Regions from separate parts of the Homo sapiens genome. Here region 1 is linked to region 2. The links come from fine-mapping of genetic effects on gene expression. Tissue or cell type: whole blood. Region 2 holds a variant in brackets; the other region holds the start of a gene. All regions are shown on one strand. Distances are between the middles of the regions.

Region 1 (2,761 bases), 59 kb before region 2:
ATTTAACCCAATATATCCAAAATACTGTCATTTCAGTAAAATAATTATTAATGAGATATTGTACATTCTTTTTTTGTACTAAATCATCAAAATTTGGTGTGTCTTTTTCTCAATTTGGACTAGTGACATGCCAAGTGCTTAGTAGCCACATGTGGCCAGTGGCCAGCTCATTACACAGGAGTGGGAGGGTGGAACTAAGCTCTCGCAGAGGTATCTGGCTTGTCCTATCCCTTGGGTCATCACTAGACTTGCCCCCTCCTCAGCAGAGCCATGCAAGTTCCTCCTTTGCCCATTGGGGTACACAGGGTTCAGCCCATGCGAAAGCACCCCACAGAGGGGTCCTGACGTCTGTGGAACACACTGGAAGGCTGGTCCCATCCAGGAAAATCATCCAAGTGCTTGCAGTGTGCTAATAAGATGGGTGTGTTCCCTGTGAATCCACAGGAGGCTGGAGGCCCCCCGCTGCAAACACCTGGTGAGACACAAACTGTTTCCAAGCTCCCAGGCAAATGCTCCATCCACCTCCAAAGACCCATCCTCCACTTCATTGTTTACAAAAGGAGCTCAGCCCTCCCAGATACTGGCCACCTGAAAAGACACATTCTATTTTTGTAAAAGACAGATGTTCTCATTCAAAATGACACTTTCCGTGGCTAAGAAGTTGTTGTCCATGGAGATGCTGTCTCTAGCCCCATACAGTGGCCAAGTCTTCAGGTCACTGTGCTGGGTCGCTGGCTGGACACAGGCTGGCTAGCCCAGTCCTGGACTCTCCTGACCCCCATCTCTTGCTGGTCTGAGTCTGCTCCCGCATCCACCCGTCCTGCCCCCAGACCCTGCAGCTTTCTGAGTGTTCTGGCAGGAAAGCCTGCCTGCCCCTGGCCTGCTTGAGGAAATACTGTCTGCAAAGCAGCGGGAACGAAGACCCTCGCTTGCACCCAGCTGTCTCTAGAAGCCAGGGCATGGCCTTCCCTGGTAAGGGGTGCTTCTGTGTTGGCCACAGGGCAAATCTTGGGCATTTCCTTTTTAGTAAAGAAGCAAAGTTTCCTTAAAGTTGCCACCAGGTCACCTGGAGCGACCGAGGGCCTCTGTAAAATGTGGAATGTGGGGCGAAGTGTGCACACCCACTGGGGCACTAAGCCGGCCACCGCCCTTTTGCAACTTCAGGTCGTGTCCCCACCCAGCCCAGGAGTTTCACGAGGAAGGGCACTTCCTCAGGAGGATGCTCACTATTCAGCGGCAATGGTCCCAGAACGCCCGCCCCATGTGACACATGGCGTGACGGCTGGCCAAGTGTCCGCGCACGTTTGCCAAGAGGCACATGCGGTGCCCAGAGAAACCCCAGAAAGTTGGACTTACCCCTCCTGGCCTGCCTGATCTTTGGGCTCAGCATGTTCTTGCAGCCGTCCGGCCAGCCCCGCAGGGCCGTTCATGCTGTCATCCACTTGCTTTTGCTCGTCCTCGCGCCTAGTCGCCCCTCATGTCCTGCTCGTTCGGGGCCCCGTGGCCGCTGGCGTCACCCGTCAGGCTCCCTCGGCTACCTCTCCTGGCTCCGGACGGACGGCTCGCCTTGGACTACATAAACCTCGATGCATTATTTATCCATCCCAGAATTAATTCCCATCCAAGCGGACCATTAAAGCCTCAGTAATCACTGCTGATCAATCACTGGACCAGGGCGGGGCAGTCCCTCCGCCTGGCCTGGGCGCACGCGTGGCTGTCCAAGCTGAGCGCGGGGGCGGGGCGGGGCCGAGAGGGGCGGGGCCAGCCAGAGACGCGGGGCGCGGTCCTGGCCCGGGAGAGGGTACTGGGGTTCCGGCCATCCTTTGCTGAGGCTGGAAGAAATGCGCCTTTCAGCCGCCGCCTGGGAGCCGCACTCCCTGCCAAGCCCGGGTGGGATAGCGCTTTGGTGAGAAGGTAGCCGAGACCCCCCCCCCACCCCAGAGCCCAATCCACGGGGACCCGCTTATGAGCTCACTGTTTTACGTGTTGAAAGTCAGGTGTGTCTGGGAAGGAGCAAGCAGCCCGGCAATGTAAACTCCTCAGGAGACTCCCAACAGGAAGATGCCTGTTAGGGATACTATTTATGCCTCTTTAGTAAGGTGACAGGAATAAGAGGGCAGGAAGCACTTAACTCAGGGCTCTTCATAGGAAGATCTGAATTGAATAGTGAATCTCTGCTAATTGCCATGTTTCTGTTTGATGCTGGCATAATTTTAAAGGGTGTATACTGGGGCTTTGTGAGGAGCGGAATCCAGCCTCAAGATGCTAAAAATTACCCAAGGAATGCAATCATAACAATAGCTATCATTTATTAGGCACCTACTATGTGTCAGGCACTGAGGCTGGTGCTTTACATTCAATATCTCATTTAACTCTCAAACTCCTGAAGCAGGTGCTATATATATAGCGTTTCAAATCTGGAAAATAAGGCACAGCAAGGTTGAATCACCTGCCCAAAGTCATACAGTACCGAGCAGCAGGGCGGGCACCAGAACCCAGGGCTGTGTCTACAGCTCCTGCTGCTCTGTGATGCCAGCCTCTCCACCCTATTCCCATCACTGCATGGTAACAGCTCCTGGCTTGAGCCCCCGATGAACTTGCTGAACGGTGACCTGCCTCTGTGCCCCTGATAATCACTCCGTGTATCCTCTTAGGCATCTGAGCTTGGGTCTGGCTATTTGGGCCTGAGAACTGTGTGACCCTTTCAGTAGCTGGTAAAGAGGGATTTGAACAATGCCCTCCCCTGCTCAGATGGCCATAG
Region 2 (2,761 bases):
GTTAGGGACAAATGGGGCAGAAGGCAGGTGTGACTACAAGGGACAGCATGAGGGATAGCTTACAGCCACAGGATAGTTCTGCACCCTGGTGGTTACATAAATCTGCATGTAATACAACTGGAGTGATAGACATTGCATCAATGCCAGTTCCCTGGTTTTGATATTGTACTAAGTTATGTAAGATAGAATCACTGAGAGACACTGAGTCAAGGGGATCTGGGACCTCTTTGATTATTTTTGCAACTTCCTGTGAATCTGCAAAAGAGTAGGTACTCACTAGTGGCAACAATATACATTACCAGTCTAACATGTGTACACATAGATAGGTCTTGTTAGGATGTTGAAACTGTGCCAATGCATGTTATTATTACTACAGTTTTAAAGATTTCTCTAAAAAATCAAAAAGCAAAATGTATATGATAATTAAAGAATACAAAAAATTAAAAAACATTATTTGATAAAATTAAATTCTTATTGTGATTTTAAAAATAAAAAATAAATCTAAAAATTAAACTGTTAGCATTTCTGGTGTTTGTTTTGCATCTAGTGGGTGCTATGAAGAATCTATGTCATACTTCACGCAAGTGACATTATACATCCAGAACAACACATATGCATCTAAGAGGGAGTGAGCTGTTTAATAGCATGAAATATTTCCAGGCTGCAATGAAGAACCATTGTGAATTTTGCAATGATATATAAGTACCTATGAAACTATGAATTTGAACTCAAAGAGCAGAAAAAAAAATACATGTCTGGCACTATTCAGAGATGAGATTTCTTATGGAGAACCTACTACATTTAGGTGATCTGAGAGGAAGCCTCTGGAAGTTTAGATTTTTTTCCTATTGCTTCCACGTTCAATTCCTCCTAGACATGGAAGCAATGTTCCTGCTGGCAATGGCACAACCCATAAACCTAAGCTGATCCTGCAAGCCAAATCCATAACATTTGGATCCAATCACATTTTCTTTTGAGGACATACATAGGGCAAGAGATGAGGTGCTGGACAATGCCAGTCCAGTGAGCAGGTGTGCAGGGTCAGGGCCATGGGTCATGCAGGGCAGCACTGGGCACACCTCTCGAGGAACAGAGGTGCCCATTCCATACATCCATGAATAGATGTGTGCTGTTTGGGTTCTCATGGGCCCTCAAAGTGTAGAGTCCAAGATAGGGCCCTCCTTGGTTTCCTGGACAGGTAGCATCTTAGTTCTTATGTGGGTATGAAGTCACTGCTGACTCCATGGCCATGTGTCACCAGGTTTACACCTTACCCTCCAGCAGGCTGAGCTGTCAGAGCATATGGAGGCTGCCTTGCTCACCTTGGTCTTTCCACTCAGGAATAGCACACAGATGCTGGGGCTCAGAAGCTTTTGGGGAAATGAGCTGCACAGGATTCTCTGTGGGTCCACTGGGAGCCCAGCTCTGTGGTCTCTCCCTGTGAAGTAGAGCACAACCTCGCTGCAGGGAGACTTCTGGGTTTGCTGCTCCTGGGCCAGGGA[T/G]CTGCTACTGCAGTTATGCCTTGGACTCCGTGCCACTCTGAAATGCAAGGGCAAAGACTTCAACCAATGCTGCTTCCAGACCAGCTTATCCTAGTGTTACTTTTGGAAAATGCTTTCTTCTTGTTTTTTAAAAAATTTATCAAGCATTAGTTTCTTTAGAGATGGCCCTCCAAATCCCTTCCCTGTCAGTGTGCTCATGCCCTTCCTCCTGCCAAGAGGTGGAAATGATGCTACAGTAGTTCTGCATGTAGACCCTAAGAAGCCTGGAAGCTTCACTGTCTTTCTCTCTGGAAGCCAAGCTGTCATATTTTATAAGATTTGCACTGTCTAACGAATGATGAGAGGGCATGGAGGGAAAGAGAGTCTGCAAAGGAAGAGCACTGAGGCACCAGTCTTGTGAATAAAGCTTCCCTTGGATATTCGAGCTCCCAGCCCCCTAGTGAATGCAGCCAGGTGGCTCTCAGTCCATGCTGTGTGGAGCAGAAGAACCCCCCAGCCAAGCCCTGCCTGCTTCCTGTCCCACAGAATTGTGAGAAATAATAAGTAGTTGTTATTTCAAACCACCATATTTTGTTATGTAGCAGCAGATATCTGAAACACTCCTCAATAAAGCTTGGGAAAACTTGACTGTTAAATGTTTGATTGAGCACCTACTATTTCTTAGGTCTGTACTAGGGGCTATGGCTATGGAGATAAACAAGAAAAATTCCCTGACTCAAGAGCTCACTAATCAAAATGGCAAGGAGGAAATTATAACAGAGCAATTTGCAGAATGGATGAGCAATAGGAAAAGTGTAGGGGACTGTAGAGGACTAGGAGGGAGGGAGAATCCTATCCCACAAAGGCAGGATCAAGGACTGAAATCTCCCCCAGTGCCACCACCCAGCAACAACTACTGGGGGCAGTTTTTTTTTTTTTTTCAGTTGCAAGATTTAATAGAGTGAAATAGAGTGAAAACAGAGCTCCCATACAAAGGGAAGGGACCCAAAGGCGGTTGCCGTTGCTGGCTCGAATGCCTGGGTTTATATTGCAATCCTTGTCCCTCCCACTGTGCTCTCAGGCAATAGATGATTGGCTATTTCTTTACCTCCTGTTTTTGCCTAATTAGCATTTTAGTGAGCTCTCTGATTGGTTGGGTGTGAGCTAAGTTGCAAGCCCCGTGTTTAAAGGTGGATGCGGTCACCTTCCCAGCTAGGTTTAGGGATTCTTAATCGGCCTAGGAAATCCAGCTAGTCCTGTCTCTCAGTCCCCTCTCTCAA

Evidence for each region. PIP is the estimated chance that this variant, and not a neighbour inherited with it, causes the effect.
Region 1: ARHGAP22 starts here. The variant in region 2 is fine-mapped to the expression of ARHGAP22 in whole blood (INTERVAL, PIP above 0.99).

The regions. Positions count from the first base shown.
Region 1 is chr10:48,603,407-48,606,167 of GRCh38, forward strand. ARHGAP22 (Rho GTPase activating protein 22) reads right to left here and starts at 1,667. Exons shown (of 10, transcript NM_021226.4): 1 at 1,357-1,667. The coding sequence starts at 1,390. RefSeq lists an enhancer at 1,088-1,818 and a silencer at 1,675-1,834.
Region 2 is chr10:48,662,874-48,665,634 of GRCh38, forward strand. No RefSeq gene overlaps it. Among named protein-coding and RNA genes, the nearest start is that of WDFY4, 21 kb to the right of the region's middle. The variant T/G (reference allele first, on the strand shown) is at 1,503.